Linked DNA regions of Homo sapiens: regions 1, 3 and 4 are each linked to region 2. Evidence: fine-mapped expression QTL. A gene starts in region 2. Each other region holds a variant in brackets. All regions are shown on one strand. Distances are between the middles of the regions.

Region 1 (6,248 bases), 25 kb after region 2:
ATTGTCAAAAGACAAAGAGAGAAACTAGAAAGCAGCAAGGGAAAAAGTGACTCATCAAGTACAAGGAATACTCAATATAATGTACAGTTTACTTCTCATCAGAAACTATGGATGCCAGAAGGCAGTGGGATGACAGATTCAAGATGCTGAAAGACAGACTGTCAAACAAGAATTCCAGTGGCTCACGCCTGTAATCCCAGCACTTAGGGAGGCCAAGGGTGGGTGGATCACTAGAGGTCAGGAGTTCAAGGCCAGCCTGGCCAACATGGTGAAACCCCATCTCTAATTAGCTGGGCATGGTTGCGGGTACCTGTAATCCCAGCTACCCGAGAGGCTGAGGCACAAGAATCACTTGAACCTGGGAGGTAGAGGTTGCAGTGAGCCAAGATCGCACCATTGCACTCCAGCACCACTGCACTCCAACCTGCATGATAGTGCAAGACTCCATTTCAAAAAAAAAAAAAAAAAAAGACTGTTGACTAAGAATTCTATGTCCAGCAAAACTATTCTTTAAAAATGAGGGCCAGGCGTGGTGGCTCATGCCTGTAATCCCAGCACTTTGGGAGGCTGAGGTGGGTGAATCATGAGGTCAAGAGATTGAAACCATCCTGGCCAACATGGTGAAACTCTGTCTCTACTAAAAATACAAAAATTACCTAGGCGTGATGGTGCATGCCTGTAGTCCCAGCTAGTCAGAGACTGAGGCAGGAGAATCGCTTGAACCTGGGAGGTGGAGCTTGCAGTGAGCCAAGATCGTGCCACTGCACTCCAGCCTGGTGACAGAGTGAGACTCCATCTCAAAAAAAGAGGAATATTTCTATATACAAAAAGGGAAAACAGAATGAAAAGGATGAAATTAACCTGCTCAATGGCTATATGGCTGTTTTTCTCCAAGTTACTCCATCACTGGTATTAACTTATGTAAGACACACTTTCAGACTTTTTGTTTTCTTAAGACATTTAGCTCTCTGTGGTAGATACGAAGATTCCCTGCACAGATGCCTCTTCAAGGACTTGATGCCCGGCAATGGGCAGGCAGTCAGCAGATGTCTTTAGTGATGAGCTTTTTCCAGAGAACTGCTTTGCCCAAAACCTTCCTCTTCCTACGGCTGTGTGCATCTGATGACTATGTGAGGGTGTAATAAAGCCTTGGCCACTTGATACTATTCTCTCAACATTCTGTGCCAGATCAGATGAGGCTTTTCGAATCTGCATAGCAGCTCTACTTCTCCTTTCACCCAGTCCCACATCCTTCCCTTCCCTTTCTCTTCTTTCTTTTTCTTTCTTTCTTCCTTTCTTTCTTCTTTCTTTCTCTTTCTTTCTTTCCTTTCTTTCTTTCTCTTTTTCTTTCTTTCTTTCTCTCTCTCTGTCTTCTTTCCTTCTTTCTTTCTTTCTCTTCTTTTTTTTTTTTTTGACACCGTCTTGCTCTGTCACCCAAGATGAAGTGCAGTGGCACAATCTCAGTTCACTGCAACCTCTGCCTCCCAGGTTCAAGTGATCCTCCTACCTCAGGCTGTCAAATAGCTGGGACTACAGGTGCCCACTACCACACATGGCTAATTTTTGTTGTTGTTTTTTTTTGTAGAGACAGGGTTTCATCATGTTGCCCAGGCTGGTCTCGAACTCCTGGACTCAGGCAATCAGCCCACCTTGGCTTCCCAAAGTGCTAGGATTACAGGTGTGAGCCACCACACCTGGTCCCTTCCCTTACTTTTCGTAAGTGTTGATTCCTAATAAAACATCTAGCTTCCAAAGCTCTGCCTTGCTCTTTGCTTCTAGAGAACTAAACCTGTAACACAATCGTTGTCTTTTACCTTCAGGCACAAGGGAAAGACAGAAGGCCAATAATCTTGTTCTGTTCAACAAAGATAATTTATAAGTATTTATGTCTTCTAGAAAACAGGGATGTCAATTTAAGTTTTTATTACCAGGGGAACACATTATTATTATAAACACCAGTTTACAACCTGTTAAGGACTAGGAATTGCTTTCACAGGCCATAGCAACAATCTCTGATCTCCAGATGTCTAACAGGGAGTGTAGCCAACCAGAGTCAGCAACCGACTGCCCAGCCCAGCCTCTTGTTTTATAAATACAGCTTTATTGGAACACAGCTATCCACATTGGTACACATATCGTCTATGTCTGCTTTCACACTACAACACCAGAGCTGAGTAGTCTCAGTAGAGACCATACAGCCTGCAAGCCAAAAATATTTACTATCTGATCTTTTAAGAAAAAAGTTGCATTATGTCTTTCTAGAATGAGGGCACTACGGAGTTAAAGGGAAAAAAAATCTACTAATTCAAAAATAATTTATTCATTAATTTCTTCGACTAATAGTTACTATAGGTAAATCACAGCTTGACATTTGGCACAAGACTTTTGAAATGTTTAAAAATAATACACATAATTGTTTTTAACAGTTTTTCTGTACCTACTAGTAGTGACTGAGCTTTTAGTCTGGGCAAAGCAGGTTGCCATATACCATTCTCAAGAGTGTGTGTGCCTTCCATGAAACAGGGTTAGAAAATATGTGAAGTTGTTGATTTGATGTGTGACCACGCTGCTTCAGTCCTATGTCACATCTCTCTGGCATTGTTATCTTTGGATCTTTGGGAAAGTGCTAATCCACCATGTATAATGATCATACTTTTTCTTTTCCTTTCTTTTCCCTTTTTTTTTTTTTTTTTGAGACAGAGTATCACTCTGTCACCCAGGCTGGAGTGCAGTGATGCAATCCCAGCTCACCACAACCTCCGCCTCCCCAGATCAAGCAATTCTCCTGCCTCGGCCTCCCAAGTAGCTGGAGCCACTGGCGCCCACCACCACACCTGGGTAATTTTTGTATTTTTAGTAGAGACGGGATTTTACCATGTTGGCCAGGCTGATCTTGAACGCCTGACCTCAAGTGATCCACCCACCTCAGCCTCCCACAGTGCTGGGATTACAGGCATAAGTCACCACACCCAGCCAATGATCATACTTTTTCATGTTATACCTTCTTTTCCCAAAACCTATTTATATACCAGTAAATCAAACTGTGCTACGACAGTGCTTTTACATTTGATTCTGATTCCACATAATAATTTCCCATTTGAAACAACAATTATTTTATCAAGAAGAAACAGCTGCAAACACAGCAATTCCTCTGAACTACCATTAACTGAATGTTCCCTGCTGTCAAGCCAGATGCTTAG[C/T]AGTGAGTACTGAGCTTTCTCTTTAAACGTGCAGGAAGCAGGGAGATGAGTTGGCTGGCTGCACGGCCCTGTGGTGGGAGTCCTGGGCCCAGCCCCTCTGCTGTGCACTGCAGAACTAGAGACAGAATGCCCTTCTCATCACTCCCTGCCTTTGACCCTATTCTTCCTGGACCTCCTGCCCCAACTTCTTCAGTAAGTTCTCTGAAGCCAGTTGCATCATTTGAGTTCTATTGTCCATATCTAGTATTCCAGAAAATTGTACTGTTATAAAAATTTAACAGGGTCAAAATTATTAATGCCTGTGTGTTCACAGCTTCTTTCCCTCTCCCTTCAAGCTAAGTGAAATTATGGAGTTGCTCATCCTCTAGGTATTTTTCCATTTACCTTTCTCATGGGCCTTATTAGAGAGACAGGGGCGGGGGAAGAAAGTCTTGAGCAGCCAACACTGGGTTGTGGTGGCAGTTTTAGGTTAGTAGTTGACAGTGAGGAGAGGGACTTTTCAGGAGTAACTACATCCATATAAAAAATAATTGAGAATGCAGAGGTAGTAGGCAGAAGATTTTTCAATATGTTAGCTGTGCCTGCAGAAAATAATGAGATTTATGAAGATAAAAATAACAGGTAAATGTTTTGAGCTAGGGGAGGAAGGGGATGGAGAGATGAGTAGGAGTGCGAGGATGTTAATGCTTTTATCTTTCAAAGTAAGGAGTCACTGATGATACATACAATCAAAACGTGGCTTTATAAAAAGTGCAACAATGCAGTCTTTTCATATTTTGGAGTATTTAGAATTCTTCAGGAAATAATGTATCTTGTGGTGATAGAGGAATATTTATTTGAAATTCAGCCATTCCTTCAATTTCTCTTCTATTAAATTCAAGTAAGTTTAATTTTAAGATGTTTATATAAATGGCATGACCCCATGCTTATAAAGGTATTCTTTCTATCTGTATGTATGCTTAGAAGAATGTGTATATATACACAGTATAAAGCTAATGTATATTATTCTAAAGCTAATCATGGTCATTTCTGGGTGGTAGATTTGAGGTGATTTTCAAACTTTTATTTTTGTGCAGTTCTGTTGTTTGAATTCCTGTAAGTCATTCAATAAACTAATTTTTCTTTTAAAAATGTGAAAAATATGCCAATATAATAGTGGTTTGTTTGAGATGGTGTGAATATGGATGATAATGACGATGATATTGATGATTTTTGAGACAGGGTCTCACTATGTTGCCCAGACTGGAGTGCAGTGGCTAATCACAAGCTTTACCATGGCACACTACAGCCTGAAATTCCTTGGCTCAAGTGAGCCTCCTGCCTCTTCTTCCTGAATAGCTGGGACTACAGGCACATGGCAATTATTATTTTTCTTTGTGCTTTTCTGTATTTTCTAACTTTCTAACAATAAAAATTATAAAATAAAATAATACAAATATACAACATCGCTATTATGCTTTCCATGTTAATATTTTTTTATTCCATGGCAGCTTTATGAAGATATTAATAGTAAAGCATGTTTTTTCATAGGATGTTTCAACCAAAACTCTTTTTTACAGACATGCATAAAAAGTACCATGGACCAAGATAAATCATTATTTGTCTAAAGATTAGCATAGGCAGACTTAAATAGCAGCAATAATTCCTGTGTCTAAGAAAAAAACTCCAAGGAGGGCACACTTGGTCCAGTTAGGGCCAAGTTAGGGGATTTCAGAACGCCCATGAAAATTACCAGCAATCAAAGAAAGGATGAATAATAAGTGACTAACAGAATCAAATATCTAACGTGTAATACGTACAAGTAACCATTTTCAAGCCTCAGGACTCTATTCTATAAAATAGACATAATGATTTCTTTCTAGATTAAGTAACATTAGGAGGTTGAGAGCATGCTGCATGGTTAAATTCAGGTTCTCAAGATAGGTGTGTTATTATTCAAGAACAGTACTCTTATGAGCAGTAGACACTTCGAGATCTTTATCAAACATGGTTCAGGATCTACTGTCTTCCATGAATTAACATTCTGTATTGTCAATATATTATTTCCAAAACATAATGTAAATGTATGCAAAAGGAAATATAAATACATAAATAGAAAAAAACCCTCAGTTTTCTTTATATTCTCCTCTACTCTTTTCTTTCTTTACTCATTAAAAAATCTTTCTCAGGCCAGGCATGGCGGCTCACGCCTGTAATCCTAGCACTTTGGGAGGCCAAGGCGGGCAGATCACAAGGTCAGGAGCTCGAGACCAGCCTGGCCAACGTGGTGAAACCCCGTCTCTGCTAAGGATAAAAAAAAATTAGCCGGGCATGGTGGTGCACGCCTATAATCCCAGCTACTCAGGAGGCTGAGGCAAGAGAATCACTTGAACCCAGGAGGCAGAGGTTGCAGTGAGCTGAGATCATGCCATTGCACTCCAGCCTGGGTGACAGGGCAAGACTCCATCTCAAAAAATAAATAAATAAATAAATAAAAATCTTTCTCTTTTCTCATTTTTCCATTATTTTTTCCTTGCAGATTCATTTATTTCTAGCTTTTTTTTTTCTTTTTTTTTTAGATGGAGTCTTGCTCTGTCACCCAGGCTGGAGTGTAATGGCATGATCTCCACTCACCACAACCTCCACTTTCTGGGTTCGAGTGATTCTCCTGCCTCAGCTTCCCGAGTAGCTGGGATTACAGGCATGTGCCACCACATCTGCCTAATTTTTTTAGTAGAGAGGGGTTTCCCCATGTTGGCCAGGCTGGTTTCAAACTCCTGACCTTCGTGATCCACCCTCTTTGGCCTCCCAAAGTGCTGGTATTACAGGCGTGAGCCACCATGCCCGGCCTTATTTCTAGCTATTTTTAACCAGTATCTTTCTCTTAAGTAAATGTGCACTTTTTTCTGATTTTCTTTTAAATATTCATCTCTGTAGAAACCTCACTAAAATTAAACATAATTAGTTTAAATGCAACCTCTGTGTAACATTATTTGCTAGAGTGAGAGATTCCTGGAGAACCATCCACTCCAATACTGTCTAGATGGAAAACTGACTCTCAGATTGGCT
Region 2 (6,248 bases):
CTTTGGGAGACTGAGGCAGGTGGATCACGAGGTCAGGAGTTCAAGACCAGCCTGGCCAATACAATGAAACCCTGTCTCTACTAAAAATACAAAGAATTAGCCGGGTGTGGTGGCGGGCACCTGTAATACCAGCTACTAGGGAGGTTGAGGCAGGAGAATCACTTGAACACGGGAGGCAGAGGTTGTGGTGAGTTGAGATCACGCCATTGCACTCCAGCCGGGGCAACAGTGCAAGACTCCGTCTCAAAAAAAAAAAAAAAGTAAAAAAAGAAAAATGATCATAAAGTAACTCAAATGATTCTAGAAACATTTCAGATTTAAGTAGAGTATCAGAAATGTTATTTCAAAAATCACTTTTACATAAATATAAGCAGAAGTAAAAAGACAAAATATAGATATAAAACTATACTTTGTGAGGAGGAGGGGCAGGTGAACATAAATGGAAAAATAAAGGGTCAGATACACTGACAGTGCTATAACAGTCACCAAAAACAGAGAAAGATCATAAGCAGAAATATGTGTACAACCAAGTCTACTTTAGACCTAAATGATCTGTCCCTGATGCATTTTACAAACTTGAATAATCATTGTCCTGGATACATCCACTTATAAAAGAACAAAAAAGATTTATAACGTTATGCCACAATGAATATTTAAAACAACTCCTGGGTTTAGAATTACTACAGCAACTTTATGAATGTCAGAAGAGGAAAAGTGTCATGGCAATATCAGATGTCACAAAAGGACAGTCTGGGCTAAGATGAAGACAATGTTTTGCCCTAACAAGAGAGCCAGTTAATATGAAATGAACCATGAAATGGAATGACCAAGTAGAAAATACACTGCCAAATCGTCAGATGCTGAATAAACAGCGTCAGTGAATTATCTGAATTAGGAAAGGCTAAAAGGTTCTTGATGTTTTATCTTCAAAATATTTTAAAATAACACCCATTTAACAATTTATGAACGGTCTCTTTAGAAAGTCTACCATTTAAGAACTACCTGATTTTCCACAACATGGAAGCAAGTCCAATACTAATTGAAACAAAACTGCCAGGAAAAAAAAAAAAGTCTTAAAATGCAACCATGTCACTGAAAGGTACAGGCCAGTTGTACTGAATTTTAAGTGACATTAGGGACAATGAAACAGTGACTGAGTCTAATTCTACACTGCTACAAAGTGAGTCGAGTTGTCAATAATAATCAGGGTCATTTCATTAAAATAATCCTCCTTGGAATTATCAGGCATTTAATAATCAGAGCAGAAATAGTTTTCCTCTTCCAGGATTCTTAATGAAAGATAAAACCAGGAGTAAAAAGATGTAAACTCAACAAGCCAGAAGTGACACTTGTGTGACCACAAATTAGAGTTCCTGTTTTATTCTGTGTGACTGCAAATTAAAGTTACTACTGCACATGGCCGGGGGGATTGAGAAACAACTTCAACCAACAGTTGGAAACAAATTACACGTGCTAACAGTTACACTCATTAGGAAATTCAGAATACTTTCAAAGAGAGAGTTATTTAGATGTTGCATTCATTTAAACGCAGACGATGAATATCTCAGCCGCCTTCCTTTGCAGGATTCTGTGCCAAGCCCTTCCGAAGCCGGGGTTGATAAGGTCGACTCCAAGAAGAAAAGCAGCTCAAGTAGGAAATGGTATCCTCACATAGCCCAGAGAACCGGTGACGCACTAGGAGCTTGGAAAATATCCCATCGTTTACCTTGCTAGAAGCAGCTGGGTAGGGAAGAGGTCGTCCACGTGCACTATTGTTTTCCAGATATGTTTATTTTTAAGTTTTGCTTTGGTATCAATAACCTCAACCTCAACCTAACAGAAAGAGGGGGGATGGCAGCGCCACTGGTGGTATTTGGGTGCAACACAAGTTTAAAAAATAAAAACATAACCTTTTTTTTTTTAATTGCAGCATACTCGGTGCCCTCACCTCTCTCCTCCTCCACACCTCTGCCATCACCCCACGCAGCTCTCCGCCGCCGCCACCTCGGGTCCCCATGACAACCCCACCCCAGGGCGGGCCCCCCTCCGCCGACTCCCGGCCCTGCCAGCCACACTTGCTTGGCAAGGGGCGACTCTACCTGCCCTCGGCTTTCTCTCCTGAGAGGCGGGCCAGGACCCCTCCGGGCGCGCGGGCCCAGTCCCGGCTGCAGACACGACCCTCACCAGTCGGGGACGTGTGGAAGGGCGACCGGGCACGAGCTGAGGAGGTTCCACCCCCAAGCCCCAAAACCCAAAGGAGTGACACGGGGCCGGGGCGCGACCCCAAATGGAGGACGGCGGCCCCGCGCCCCTCTCTGGGCTGCTAAGGGGAGCCGAGGGGCAGACGCAGTGGGCGCGAAGGAACTCGTCCGTTTTCACAAACAACGACGCGTCGCGGCGGCAGGAGATGCTGGGGCCGAAGCTCACCTTGAAGGGATTGTTGAGATCCGGGTCGGCAAACGGGTTACTGTCGAAATCCGACATCTCTCTGGCTCTCGGCGTCACCCACCCGACCCAGGCGCAGAGAGAGAGACGAGGCGAGGCCGCCGCCCCCCTGCGCGCTCACGTCGCCGCCGCCGAGCAGATCCGGGTGCAGCTCGCGGGCCACCCAGCCGGCCGCGCCACTGAGCATGCCCGGTGCGGCGGGCTCCTGGCCGCGGCGCAGCTCGCGTTCGCCATCCCGTTCCTCCGGGCCCGGATCCCACGCTCCGGGCTTTAGCTGCGACCGAGTAGGCAGTCGGGGCGAAGGAAACGGGAACTGAAAGCGATGAAAAGCGTTCCACACGCCACGAGCCCGCGGGATCCTCGGAGAGTATGGAACCCTTCCCCTCCGCTCTCAGCCGGAGGCCAGCTGCGTCCAGCCGGGCTCGGTCTTCTGAACACCGATTTCAAATCAGGTCCTCGGGGCCCAGCGTCACTTAGGGAAGTGGTGGCATTTTGTGGTAAGGACGCACACTTGTCAGGTTGGGGGAGGCAGCCTGAGTCGTGGGCCGCGCACCCCGGGAGCAGTGCCGTTAGACCGTGGGACGCGGGCACTGGAGAGGCTACTGCACCGCCCTCCGCAAATTACCTCCCCGGGGCGGGGGCGCGGCCGCTGCTAAGGATTTTTGCATACCCCTGACCCCACCTGAGAATCCCGGCCTCCCATCTTCCGGTCTCTCTGACTCTAGGTTGCTGCTAAATCACGGAGAGCAGCCTTGGCGCTGCCGGTCCCAACTTGATCCAAGGAGCCTTGAGAAGGAGATGAGATTCAGTACCAGGGGCCGGCCGTGGCTCCCATCCTCCGGAATCTGCAAAATGGCTACTTCTTCAGAAATAATGGGGAGAGGGATGGCAAGAGGCCAGAGATCAAGGCCCTCGAGTATTAACTTGAGCATTTGGGCACAAAATAGACACTTTTGGATTTTCCCGTCTTTTCCAACACCAAGGATGAGATTATCAAAAGATGTGTTAAATTAATTTGTACCGGCCGGGCGCGGTGGCTTACGCCTGTAATCCCAACACTTTGGGAGGCCGAGGCGGGCGAATCACAAGGTCATGAGTTCGAAACCAGCCTGGCCAATATGGTGAAACCCCCGTCTCTACTAAAAATACAGAAATTAGCCGGGAGTGGTGGCGTACGCCTGTAGTCCCAGCTACTCTGGAGGCTAAGGCAGGAGAATCGCTTGAATCCGGGAGGTGGAGGTCGCAGTGAGCCGAGACCGGGCCACTGCACTCCAGCCTGGGAGACAGAGCGAGACTCTGTCTCAAGAAAAAAAAAAAATCAATTTGTACCATTCCTTGCCCCACCCTGCCGAACTTATTGAAAGAGCATCGCTTTCCTCACTTTTCTCCTCTAACAGAAAAGCACTTAGATGAAGCTACAGGGAGCCAGAATTCTTTTGACTTGGTGGGTACCGGAGGATTGGAAGAATCTAGATTGAGTATTCCTTGGCCTTTGGGGAGCTTGCTCTATGCAAAGTCACCCAGGAAATGATACTCCCCCCACTGTGAAACACTAGCTAGAGATGATAGACAAAAAGCACATTTGTTGTAATCTCCCTTTGACGGGATTCAGGTTGGGATAGATGTCGAAGCAGCTGCTTCTAGGTAGTCAACGAAGATGTCAACTAGTAAATGACAACAGACAAGGATGAGCACAGCAGAGCTGTACGATTCTAGATATCAAAAAGAGCAAGCAGTCTGTTGTACTCACCATCGCATCCTCAGCAGCTGCCCAGTGCCCGGTTTTAACTTAGTGCTCAGTGTATGTGTCAGGTTTGAATCCCAATTCTGATACTACCTGTGCTACTCTCTTCACCTCTCTGAGTCTGTAAAGGATTATTTAAGAATTAAATGAAACAACATACAGAAAAGTGTCCTGCATGTATATTTAGTGCCTAACAAATATTGGTTGAACGTCGAAAGTGGCAAGGAGGCTCAGTATGTTCTTATACGCTTTGCCTCCCTTCTCCTGAGCAAGCATGTCCTTGCCCAGCTCATCTGCTTCTCTCACCACTTTTGCCCTCACTCCCTCCACCTGTCCTCCAAATGACTCAAAATAATCTGCACTATTTATTATGCATCTACTATGTTCCAAGACAATGAGGGTCAGCTGAGCCCGCATTGCAGGATGGAAATTTCCAACTATGTTCTGTTTACAGCTAATGATATTTGCACCTAATGCAAAGGTTTACAGACTTTACTGTTATAGAATCATTTGGAATACCTGTTGAAGATGCAGACACCCACCTTACCATACCTCCTATTGCTAAGATTACGCTTGAAAGGATCTGAGGTAGGGGCTCTGGATCTGCATTTTTTATTTTTTACATCTCTATACATTATTTTACATAAATGTATAAATGGAGTCATGACATACATATTGAATTTTTCACTTACAAAAATTTTTATTCCGTGTATTCCCTCTTCTCTTCCCCTACATTAACAACCTAGTACATTTCTTTAAATATTCTTGTAATAGTGTATATCTGCACTTACATAAAATAACATGTAATTGTATAAAAACAATACATATTCATGCAGATATGCATACACTCTAATACTGAGCTTTGGCATTGTCTTGAAAAAGTTAGATCATATGTATATTTTTCTGCAGCTGTTTTTCTCAATACGTATGGCAGAATTTCTCAGCAAGATGTGCATTGTCAGAGAGACAGTCTTAAGGTTTCTTCCCCTAGTATGCCACATAAATATTATCACTTTTTATGTGTAGCATGCCTATAGAGTGAAAAGGGAAGCATGGCCTAATGGAAACCATATATCTGATTCATTATTCTTAACAACTGCAAAAATCAGCATATGTAAAGGATCTCAGGTGATTTTTTTTTTTTTTTTTTTTGAGACCGAGTCTTACTCTGTCACCCAGGCTGGAGTGCAGTGGCACAATCGTGGCTCACTACAACCTCCACCTCCCTTGTTTAAGCAATTCTCCTGCCTCAGCCTCCCGAGTAGCTGGGATTACAGGCATGCACCACCACACCCGGCTAATTTTTGTATTTTTAGTAGAGATAGGGTTTCACTTTGTTTGCCAGGCTGGTCTCGAACTCCTGACCTCAAATGATCCAGGCCACCTCTGCCTCCCAAAGTGCTGGGATTACAGGCATGAGCCACCATGCTTGGCCAACCTGAGATGACTTTGGTGGTGGCTGATCACACTTTTGGGAACACTGATATGAGGACATGCAGACATATGGTCCATGGGTGAGGGTCTTAATCTGTTTGTGTTGCTATAAAGGAATACGGGAGGCTGGATAATGTATGAAGAAAAGAGGATTATTTGACTCATGGTTCTGCAGGCTGTCAGCTTCAGATGAGGGCCTTATGCTGCTTCCACTCATGCAGAAGGCAAAGGGGAGACTTCGTGCAGAGATCACATGGCTACAGTGCAAGATGGGGCATCAGGGGAGAGAAAGGGAGAAGCTGACTCTCGGTTCTTTTGAACAACCTGTTCTCAAGGATGAGAACTCACTCTCAGGAGAATAGCACCAAGCCATTTGTGAGGAATTCATCCATATGGCCCAAACACCTCCCACCAGGCCCCAACTCCAGCACTGGGACTCATATTTCAACATGACACTTTGCAGGTCCAAAGCCATACCCAAACCATAGCAGGGAGCTTATTAATTCATTAGCCTCCATGAAATTTAGAATTATAGAATGTGCGAGCTGAGAAGGAACCTCAGCCTCTCTCATGATTGAAGAAACTGGAGTTTGGACAGGTTAAGTAATTTGTCTCAGACACCAAG
Region 3 (5,476 bases), 110 kb before region 2:
ACATTAATCAAACATAAAAATACTAGATTGTAGTCATGATTCCTAAGATCAAGAATATTAGCCACCAAACTGACACACAATAATTGTATTTAAACATTTTCTTAATATAGGTTTTCCTTTTCTTCTCCAAGCAGAAGAGATAATTATGCTAATTTAAACCAAAAATAAAGAACTTCTTAGCCAACTTCAAAAAGTTGTATTTTCCTCTGCACCCAATTAGTCAAGTGAAATTATTACAGCATTACAATGAAATGGTTTAAACATAATAACAAGAAACAATACATTAATTTATTACCCCAGACTATTCAGAGAGAACAGTACCTTATCTATTTCCATTTTATCTACATATACACCACAGGCCCTGTTATAATCAAATGAGATCATTTTATCATTTAATGTACCAAGCACTACTTATGTCCTTCAACATATTGCCGCTATGCACTCTGTATACAATTTAACTTTTTGTGTATGGTCAAGTCCTAAAGAATGCACAAAGAAACACTTCTGGGAATTGTTTCTCCATACTGATTAATCACTCAAATCTTGGAATTTATTTTCAGGAGTAGGGTTCAAAAATTTTCTATCAGTATATGTCTTAAAACCTGCATAATTAAACTATGAGTCCATCAATACATAACATCAGCCACTTATTTTAACACAAATTTGAAGAAGGAAATAACAAACATTTATTAATTATATGCCCACAAACTTCGCAGAGTGGGGACAGAAAGATACTGGTAATTACACTGCACTGTGACTGGATCTAAATTAGAAGCTTGACTGGAATGCAATCAAAGCAGGCTTAGGGAAGGGCCAATGCATCCAAGTCAGTATTTTTTCCAAACCTGGATAGGAACTGGTAACTGTGAGGTAAGAAAAAGAATGAGTCAAAGATTCTCAAAGCAAGCTTGCATTTGGGAAAGTAGTTTCAAGAAGACAGAGAAAAGAGAGGATAGGCTGGTTTGGGGAGAAGGCAGATGATAAGTTCTAAACATTTGTTCATTCATTCCAACTCTACTGACAACCTACTCTAGGCCTGCCACAGCAGGCAGGTAAAGGTTTGGTTCAAAGCTTGGGAGAGGAATGGGCTAAAGACATGGACTTGGAAACCAACGGCATATGTTATGGACTGAATGTTTGTGTTCCCCCCAAAATTCTTATGTTAAAATCCCAACCACCAATATGATGGTATTAGCAGGCAGGCCTTTTCGGGGGTGATTTTGCCATGAAGGTGAAGCTTGCATTAATGGAATAAATGCCCTTATAAAAGAGACCCCCAAGGCCCAGTGTGGTGGCACACACCTATGGTCCCAGCCTTCCACTCCAACCTGGGCAATATACGTCTCCAAAAAGAACTTTTTTTTTTTTTTAAAGAGACTCCAGAGATCTCTCTGACAACCTTCCATCACAAAAGGACACAGAAACTGTCTATGAACCAGGAAGTTGGCCCCCCTGAGATACTGAATTTGTCAGTGTCTTTCTTATCTTGGACTTCTCAGCCTCTAGAACTATGAGAAATCATTATCTGTTGTTTAAGCTACCCAATCTATGGTATTTTTGTTATAGCAGCCCAAAGGGACTAAAACAACATATAAATGATAGCTGAAACCTTGGCATTTATGAAACTGTCTATGGAGAACCCAGAGTAGAAAGAGAATAAAATCAAGTATATAACCTAATTAATGCAGAAACAGAAAACCAAATATCACATGTTCTCACTTTTAAGTGGGAGCTAAACATTGGGTATACATGGACATAAAGATGGCAACGATAGATATTGGGGACTTAAAAGATAGGGGAAGGTGGGAGGGGGAGAAGAGTTGAAAAACTACCAATTGGGTACTATGCTCACTACCTGGATGACAGGCTCAACTGTCCCCCAAACCTCAGTATCACATAATATACCCTTGTAACAAACCTGCACATGTATCCCCTGAATCTAAAATAAAACTTGAAATTGTTTTAAAAAGACACTATTTAAGAGGCATCCACAAGAAGAAAGAATGACTGGGAGAGGAAAGGGAAGAACCAGATACAGATACTTCTCACTGATGCCAAGAGAAGAAAGCATGTTAACACATGAAAAGCTGTCAGAAAAACTATCAAGAAAGCAAGTTAATGCATGAAAATCTATCACGGTACAAGACAAAAATAACCCACACAGCCCTGAGTGCTTCTGATACAGTGGTAAAAGCAAACGCCATATTACTACAGATCAAAGTGTCAAATGGTCAGGAAGAAAAAGAGCACT[G/C]ACAAATACATATACTGGTAAATCCAAAGATTCCTTTCCCCTAGTACCTTAGCACTATCATTAAGTATAAAAGTAATTATTTTTATTCCCTTTTAAAACCAAGTTTTCTATGGAAAATTAAAGATATAGATAAATCACTACTCCTATGTTCCAGACACTTATCTCAAAGTGAGTACAAATGACTGGATCCTAGAAAATGAAGTGTATTATAGAAATCTTATCAACCTTCTTTACTTACTAGACCAAACCAGAGCAATGCAATTGGATTCACTTGTCTGTCTCTTCCCCTCTTCCCCCAAGTTTGTGAGCATGTAATAAATAAATGTTAATTCTTATTTGCTTTATTATTTCCTTTTTCAAACTTGCACTAAATTGAGCAGCTGATACTATGTGTTCATGGGCTTCACAGTTTACTAAAATGTAATTCACAGTCCCACAGAACACAGAAGCAAAATAAAGGTAGGAATAGCCACATTTCTCAATAGTTTGTATCTATATAGACCCAGAGAGCCACCTAGAGGGAAAAGACCACATATATATACAGTGCATAATGCTAAATACTGTATTAAATCCATTATATCCATGTGAAAAAGGGTGGATTCTTGATTTCAGGGCCCCATGAAAGATGACAGGCTAATCATCAGGATGAACATCTTTAAAAGCTTATTACTTCCCTCCAGGGTTTCAGATGGTATCTATTAATAATTCATACTGCTGATATCAGGGACAAGGTTTTGACACCAAGTACTATAATTTTTTTTAAAAAATTACACAACTTGGGGGTGGGGGGCAAGGGGAGGCATAGCGTTAGGAGAAATACCTAATGTAGATAATGGGTTGATGGGTGCAGCAAACCACCATGGCACATGTATACCCATAACAAACCTGCATGTTCTGCACATGTATCCCAGAACATAAAGTATCAAAAAGAAAAAATATTTCAATTTTGATAAAATCTAATTTATCTTTAAAAAAATGCACCAGTTGATGGTTGCTTAAATGGAGCACAATTATCACCAAGTTGCACAGCCTTTTTATCTGTACTGTCACTTTAGAAAATCTCACTGTGTATGTGACCTGAATGCATATTACCTAGTGGAAAATTCCATAAATGCAGAATAGCCTAGAGAATTCAAAAAAAAAATTAAACAACTTAAATACTATCTTTTCTACTTATGAGAACTGCATTACTCCTAAAATAATATTTAGTTCTAGGAAAATCACAGAAAAGGCATTAAATTTGGTATATACTAATTCCACTACTTTCTAGCTGGCTGGCCACCACTCAAAACTTCAAGTCTGCTTCCCATAAAAAAAGAATATTTGTTACACTATCTGCTCCTCTGAGTTTTCCTAAAGATCAAATCAGAATGTATATAAATGAGTTACACTAACATAAGTTAAATTAATTTTTAAGTATCTGCCGAAGTGTCACAGCCAAAATGTAGATGCGGCTCCATAAAGGAGTCCTGCCTCCTTAATGCAGCTTCAGAGACAATACATGCTGTGGTGGTATATGACACAGAAAAACTGTATCGTGTGGGAAGTAAAGAATAATGGCACTTTATTTAAATAACCCAAACATATGTCTTCATTAAAACATATAGAATACCATTTCAAGAAACTGTGCTTTTATTAAGATCCCTGTCATGCCAAAATTATTTCAACTTTTATAAAAGCTGGGAAAATAAAAACAAATGAGTTTTTTAAATATATTTTTTAAATTCTTGTTTTGAGTTTTTAAAAAAGTATGGACGTCTAAGCCTAATATTTTCAGTTTGAAATTTCTGGAAACCCTCTATGAACCCTCCTGCCCACAGATGGGTCAGATATCCCTTTTGTAACCCCTTGAATTGCCAGTCTAGTTTCACCATGTCGAAATCTCACGCACCCTTTAAGCACTATCTCAAATAATGCTCTGTCTGCCATTTTGTGCCTGAACTAGCTATGGCTTTCCCTATTGAGAGTACCGCCAATCCTTTGTACATTTTGGGGAGCATGTATGTACTTTTTCTTTTACAGGGTTTCTGTCCATTTTGTATTATATCCTACATGCTTTTACTTGCCTAAGGGCAAGAACTAATTCTACTCATTGTTACACCCCCTAAAAGACACAGCTTAGTAATCTGCAGTAGAAGCCACTGAATAATTATTATTACTACCTGCTGAGGATTAAATGTTCCAAAATTGTCCTCATTAATAATAATTTTTAGAAGGTACCAAATAAGTGCAATATGGCTTAAGGAGACTATACCTGTGTTACAAAGTAAAATGCTTAGTTTGCAGTCACCTCAGAGGTTAAATGTTTTTAAAGTATACAACTACTTCACACCTGCTAGGATGGCTGGAATGAGAAAAACGGAAAATCACAAGTGTTGGCAAGGATGTAGAGAAAGTGCTGGTGGGAATGTAAAATGATACAGTCCTTCCAGAAAAGAGTTTGGAGGTGCCTCAAAAACCTAAACATAGAATTACTATAAGACTACATAGGAATTCCACATTGGGTATATATGTACACAAGAGAGGTAAAAGCAAAGACTCAAACAGATAACTGTACACCAATGTTCACGGCAGCACTATTCACAATAGCCAAAAGGTGGGAAAATCTCAAATGCCCATCAACAGATAAACAATGTAGTATACAGATACAATGGAATATTATTCAGTCTTAAAAATGAATGCATTTCTGATACATGCTGCAACACGGATGAACCTTGAAAACATTATGGTAATGAAAGAAGCCAAGTACAAAAGGAAAATATTGTATAACTCCATTTATATGAAATATCTAAAATAGGCAATTCATAGCAAATTAGAGGCTGCCAGAGGCTGAGAATAGGGAGGAATAAAATTATTGCTTAATGATTAGAGTTTCTGTTTGGGGTGATGCAAAGTTCTGGAAATAGACATTAGTAATGGTTGTACAACACTGTGAATGTAATTGATGCCACTGAATTGTATACCTAAATGTAATTAAAATGTCAAAGTTTATGTTATACATATTTTGCCACAATTAAAACAAATACAATACACCAAAAGCCATTAAATTGTATACTTTAGGTTTTTTTAAATTATTTTGTATTTTTTAGAGACAAGGTCTCACTCAGTAGCCCAGGCTGGAGTGTAGTGGTATGCAATCATAGCTCACTGCAGCCTCAAACTCCTGGGTTCAAGTGATCCTCCCACCTCAGTCTCTCCAACAGCTAGGACAATAAACTCACACCA
Region 4 (6,248 bases), 110 kb before region 2:
CTAAGAGTATCAGCCGAGGACAGAATATAAACAATCTGCTCAAGAGTGCCATTTTTTTCTAGGAATTCAAAAGTATTACTCTATCTGTGTCCCTTAGAAGAAGGTGACAAGTAACTGGATGACTATTTTAATAGACAATGTGAACCATCCAGAATTGATTCCTAGTCAGCAAAGACGACAGTGCTGAATGGTTCTGAGAGAGAAGTAGCATGCCTATTTGTGACTATAGAAAAATAGTACAGTGGAATTATCAGCTTTCTATCCTAGGTCATAAATAAAGTTACAAAGTGGAAGAGACAAGGGGGAGAGGTGAATGATAACAATATTTTCAAGAAAGTATAGATGATAATCCTTGAACTGGGCAGGTCCACTTATAATATGTGATTTTTTTCCAACCAAACTCACATAGAAAATACAGTATTCATGGGATGTAAAACCCAAGTACACAGAAGGCTTTTTGTATACATGGGTTCTGCAGGGCTGACTCCAAGACTTGAGTATGCATAGATTTGGTATATGGATGTGTGGGTTCTGAAACCAATCCCCTGCATATAGAGGGATAACTGTAAGAGTCACTTTTCACCTAAGAAAACTATCACTTTATATATAATAGGATATCTTCACAAAGCATTTACCATAAAACACCAACTAATGAGACTTAATCACAGTGTTCTCTATCATAGACCCAATTCAGCGCTCCCACAAAAATGAGTATCTGCAGAATATATACTGTAGTAAATAAACAAGATTTGAAACACTTCAGAAAACTTGTTTTTTAAAGAGGTAAAATAACTTTTTTCTAAAATTCTTTCAAAATGCAAAAAATTCACTATTAAAAACTACTTAATGTGAACATGACAGTCTATGAACAAATTTCATGGAAGTGATAATCATTCAAAATCAGGTCCCAAAAGGAATACAAATGATATATCATCTATTAATTACTTCCATATTAAGTTATTCTAGCCATACCAATTAACAGAAGGGAAAAGTTTTGGATTCCCTGATCCATAGTCTCCTGTGATGCATTCATTTACTGTTATTTGACACATTTATAACAACTCCCTGCTTGGCCCAAAACCATTACTCAATTCTTTCTGATAGTTCTAATAGAAAGAGGAGCTTTTGTAAAAACACCATTTGGAAATAATCTGAAAGAAAACAAGAAATCTATTTGTGAAAGATAAGGACTAAACTAGACCCTTCTCCATGCAGATGTATAGGAGACATATATTCTTTCAATATTTGAAATGTGGAGTATAAAACAACACTGTGGGGGAAACAAACAGCACAATCTCATACTGGGCCCTGCAGCACCAATGATGACCCACTTCAGTTATGCAAGACAACAGAAAGCCAACGAAATTACCAAAATCCTATTCACTTCAATTAGGATAAATATATAGGACAGAGCACATTTACCTTAAGAGAAGAACAGCTTAATAAAACCCAACAATTCTAGAGTCAAAACCGTGCACAGATTACGGTTAGAGGGCATTAACTGTTCTTGAAAAGCATGACCCCTAGTGGTTATAAATACTGCTACATACCTGCAAAGGATTTTTTGTCATTAAACTGCCAGTTTTGACCAAGTGTGAAACAGAAAATTAAAAAGGAAAAATTAGGTTTTTAAAATTGGATCTTAATTTCTATTACAGCAAGAGAAATGCCTGCTATTAAAATATGAAAGCTGGTGCAAATTATATTTTAGCTTATAGTATCCCTATCGTACTTCATAAAATCATACAGAAAATCATCTCATCTAAACTCCTTATTTCACAGATAAAGAATCTGAGACCCAGAGAAGTTTAGGAACTTGTGAACACATATAAACAGAAGTTCTGGTAACTTCTTTAACTATGAGGTAAAAACAACAACAACAACAAAATATTAGAGTATGCTGCATGATATCCATATCAATACTTTTATTCGAGAAAGTCATATTTCTTTTCAATGCCTGGCATATGAGCACCATTCTATAACTTTTCCTTTGTGTGGTGGATCCTGAAAAACTGTATACCTGGAAAATGGAAAGGAAAAAAACTGCTGGTCAAAGTATTCAGAGTGTGCACAGAGTAGTTCATTATAGAACAGCTACAGAATAAACACTTCCTCCACACCCTGGCTCTATTGATCATCTGTGCCACACATTCCTCAACCACTGCCAGTGATGGTTAAAGTTCCCTTTATACTTCACCCACAGCAGAGTCTTAATTGTTGTGAGTATTCTCCCCAAAGCCCTCTTCTGACTCCATACACTTTCTAGGCTTCATTTACTTCAACAAGTCAATACTTTCCAGTCTAGAAATCCAGCCTAAAGTTCTTCCCTTGCTCCTAACTCATATATACAAAAGCCTACTCAATATTTATATTTTAATGCCCCACCAGTTAATTTAAACTCCCCAAATTCAAGGTCAACGTGGAAAACATCTTGATCCCCAAACCATTTTTCTTGTACTCTCTTCTTGAATGGTCCATCATCTAAAAACCTGGGTGTCATCCTTGAGTCTTATCTTGTCCCCTACTTCCAGGCCCAGTTGGATTAATCCTTACCTGCTCGTTTTCTCTTGACTACATTTTCTTCACATTTCCTCAGTTCAGGCCACCATCATTACTAATCAGCTTCCTAGCCCGTCTCCTAAGTGTTTCCAAGTACGACTGCTCGGCCCCGCAAATCCCAAATGTATTTCAGAATAAATGCTTCTAAAATTCAAATCTAATCAATTCAATTACTCTCCTCCTTAAAACTCTTCTATGGCTCACTACCACTTTTTGGAGAAGATTTAAACTTCTTAACAAGACCCTGTAGGATAAAACTATACTTACGTGTTCAATTTCATCTTCCAATACCAACAACCTACAATTCTCCTAGCCCCAGCTCACACACCATGTTTTATCTCCCATCCATTCTGAGCTACATTTAATTCCCTGAATTTGCCATGTTATTTCCTACAACTAGATGTGAACGTGGTATCCCCACTCTCTGGTACCTCCTTATCCCTCTTATCCTCTTCCCTGTCCCTTATTCTTTTGCTTAGATAACTATAATGATGAGCAGCCATCATTATATCTCAGCTGAGGCAATACTTAAAAAGACCTCCAAAACCTGATAGGTGTCCCTCTGCTCCCTATACTTACCTCTATCATGGCCATTAAATAACTGAATTGGGGGGCCCACCAATTTATTTCTCTTCCTCACCAACAGGTGATCTCTCTGAGCTCATGCACAGCCCAGTGCCTGGCACGTAATATATGCTCAATAACAGCTGTTTAACAAATGAGTGAAAACTGCCACACACCACAAAACCCTCTACTATACTCAAAATGTATTACATTTCTACTTCTATAAAACACCCTCAATAATACATGTGAAATAATAAAGGAATTCTCCAAAGAATGGTGCTGTGATGGTCAGTGTTACATGTTAATTTGGCTAGGCCGCAGTCTCCAATTATTCAATCAAACACTAACCTAGGTGCCGCTGTGAAGGTAT[C/T]TTGTAGATGTAATCGGCATCTGCCTTCAGTTGACTTTAAGAAGAGTGTTCTAGATTATCTGGGTATGCCCCATCCAATCTGTTGAAAGGCCTTAAGAACACAACTGGAGTTCCTCTGAGGAAGAAGAAATCCCACTTGTGGACCAGAGTTTCAACTTCTGCCTGAGAGTTCCGGCCTGCCCTCTTGATATCAGACTGACCTCACCAGCCAATTCCCCGCAATTAACCTTTTCATTCTTTCTGTTTCTGATAGCATGCTGACTGATAAAGGCATCTACTAAACAAAAGTAGACACTAAACCAGACCCTGAATATAAAATGATAAAAAGGTCAAGATCAGAAAGGAAAACTATTAACTGAGAAGGCCCTATTCTATGCAGTTTACATTCACTGTTTCATTTAATCCTCACACCAACCCTATGAAAGTGGTTACTCTTCCCATTCCTTCTTTTATTCAACAAATATCTGAGTGCCTATCACATGCCAATCACTGCATGTCACTGTTCCAGATGTGAGAATTACAACCTGAAAGCATACAGAACAGGTCTCCACTCTCACGCAGCTTGGAGTACAGTTGAGGACACCAAACCTGAGTGGTTACAGAAGTCTGTCTCAGGTCACAGAGCTGTAAGTGAAGCTGTCAAAATTTCAACCTGAGTTGTATGGTTCCAAAGCAAAACTCTTGCTCTTCTCATCTAATTCCAATGCTAAAAGACTTGTTCACGCGGGGGGTGCTTAACAGCTGCGTACCCAGAATACATGCACCATAAGGCATAAAAACTGGCTTATGCCCAGGTGCCACAGTAAGCAATATAGACAGTTAAGTTTCCCCAAGAAAACAGAGAATGACATGGTCCCTAAGATACAAGGCAACAAAAAACATTCTGGGAGACACAGCAAGATCGGAGCTGGGTCTTGAAAGAATACTAGTAGGTCTTCAAATAGCAGAGAAGACGAATTAATGCACGGATTAAAAAACATCATATAAACAAAATCTGGAACAAAGGAATGTACATGATGTATTTGAAGAAACCGAGCAGTACAGTCTGACAAGAATAGAAAGTGTGAATCATGGAGCTGTGAGACGTCACCATTAGCCCTTCTTCCCACCACCACTATAATCCCAATCTGTGATTCTCCGAGAGGACAAAATGGCATAATACTGGTGAAGTGTTCTGCATAGGGCCCAGAGTATGGCTGAGCAAAATAAAAGTGATTTCATCATTAGGTTATTAAGGCCCATTTGATGGCTTTATGGCATGTAGTGTGTTTTTACAACCTTAGCAATGCTGGTGTTTCTGAATGTAGCCCTTCTTCGCACTGCCACCAAAATGCCGTTCCCAATCCCAGATCCACGTCAAAAATCTGCAGAGTGCCAATTTGTTGGGGTTTTTTTAAGGTTAATATAGGAATTATATATTAAATGGACTGCGAGAAGGATGAGGGAATATAAGTAACCTGTAAAAAGAATTTCTGGATTAGCTGAGGTTGGAAATGGAAAAGATACTAAAAAGGTATCTAAGAAAGTGAATTAAAAAGTAATGGAAGTGGCTGTGCGTGGTGGCTCATGCCTGTAATCCCAGTAGGCAGAACACGAGGTCAGGAGATCAAGAGCATCCTGGCCAACATGGTGAAACCCTGTCTCTACTAAAAATACAAAAATTAGCCAGGCATGGTGGCACATGCCTGTAATCCCAGCTACTCAGGAGGCTGAGGCAGGAGAACTGCTTGAACCAGGGAGTTGGAGGCTGCAGTGAGCAGAGATCACGCCATCACACTCCAGCCTGGTGACAGAGCAAGACTCTATCTCAAAAAAAGAAAAAAAAAAATAGCTGAGTGTGGTGGCGCATGCCTGTAGTCCCAGCTACTTGGGAGGCTGAGTCAGGAGAATCGCTTGAACCCGGGAGGCGGAGGCTGCAGTGAGCCAAGATCGCGCCACTGCACTCCAGCCTGGCGACAGACAGATTCTGTCTCAAAAAAGAAGTAATGGAAGCACTGACAGAAGCAATCACAGCACTGACAAAAATGTTCAATGGAATTACATAAAGTGCTTAGTGCCATCTCATTAGTAGGTATTCAATAAGTGTTTCTTCAAAAAAAAAAGCTTCATTAAGATAAAATCTGTATACTATGCATTTTACCCTTTAAAGTGTACAATTCAATGATTTTTAGTATATTCATAGAGTTGTGACTATAATATCTACACAACCTAATTTTAGAATACTTTCATTACCCTCACTCCCCACCCCACCCATAAGCCACAGGCAAGCTGTAATACATTTTCTGTCTCTATATATTTGCCCATTTTATACATTTCACAATAATGGAATCTATACAATATGTGGTCTTAATAAATGCTTCTTGAATATTACTCAGAACGTTCAAAAGGAACATCTATCACTAAGAAACTGAAGAGTTTATGAGGCATTACTGTGAGAAGATGACATCAATCAACAACTGGAGATGAAAATGACCAATTGAAGATGCAACTAAAGGTTTATGCAATGCATTATCTTTTCCAATTCCAAGATTCTAGGTCATCTAGGTAGAGAAGAAACTGAAATAATAAGGGAAGATGAAATTCCCAAAGAAAATGACTGCATAGCACAAAGAGCCGATTACATTTAAGACCTTAATTTATGAACTGGATGAAGAAATGGAGGAGAAAGAATAGCCAGAGAGTCAAGAGAATTAGAACATCATTGCAAAGTCTTAGCAGAGGAGCCATCTGTGGTGTAGAAAGCTACAGAGGTTAA

Alleles and levels. Alleles are on the strand shown, and positions count from the first base shown. SD is a standard deviation of normalised expression in the study named. Not every link is listed here.
As copies of T replace C in region 1, the expression in esophagus muscle of the gene that starts at base 2,539 in region 2 goes down (small effect, 0.17 SD a copy in GTEx).
In carriers of allele C in region 3, the expression in monocytes after Pam3CSK4 of the gene that starts at base 2,539 in region 2 tends to be lower than with G alone (large effect, 0.92 SD a copy in Quach 2016).

The links. PIP is the estimated chance that this variant, and not a neighbour inherited with it, causes the effect.
Region 1: its variant is the best candidate, but not a certain one, in a credible set for the expression of SCAMP1 in esophagus muscle (GTEx, PIP 0.58).
Region 3: its variant is the best candidate, but not a certain one, in a credible set for the expression of SCAMP1 in monocytes after Pam3CSK4 (Quach 2016, PIP 0.58).
Region 4: its variant is the best candidate, but not a certain one, in a credible set for the expression of SCAMP1 in whole blood (INTERVAL, PIP 0.88).

Annotation. Positions count from the first base shown.
Region 1 is chr5:78,331,983-78,338,230 of GRCh38, reverse strand. No RefSeq gene overlaps it. Among named protein-coding and RNA genes, the nearest start is that of SCAMP1-AS1, 25 kb to the left of the region's middle. The variant C/T (reference allele first, on the strand shown) is at 3,201.
Region 2 is chr5:78,356,908-78,363,155 of GRCh38, reverse strand. SCAMP1 (secretory carrier membrane protein 1) reads right to left here and starts at 2,539. Exons shown (of 9, transcript NM_004866.6): 1 at 2,428-2,539. The coding sequence starts at 2,484. SCAMP1-AS1 (SCAMP1 antisense RNA 1) reads left to right here and starts at 2,615. Exons shown (of 2, transcript NR_105014.1): 1 at 2,615-2,942; 2 at 3,171-4,392. RefSeq lists enhancers at 1,780-1,899, 2,294-2,890, 2,810-2,969, 3,000-3,089, 2,891-3,487 and silencers at 1,990-2,109, 2,540-2,629.
Region 3 is chr5:78,469,955-78,475,430 of GRCh38, reverse strand. All of the region lies in intron 8 of SCAMP1 (secretory carrier membrane protein 1), which reads right to left. Among named protein-coding and RNA genes, the nearest start is that of SCAMP1, 110 kb to the right of the region's middle. The variant G/C (reference allele first, on the strand shown) is at 2,252.
Region 4 is chr5:78,463,217-78,469,464 of GRCh38, reverse strand. The region is part of intron 8 of SCAMP1 (secretory carrier membrane protein 1); the gene reads right to left. Among named protein-coding and RNA genes, the nearest start is that of SCAMP1, 110 kb to the right of the region's middle. The variant C/T (reference allele first, on the strand shown) is at 3,494.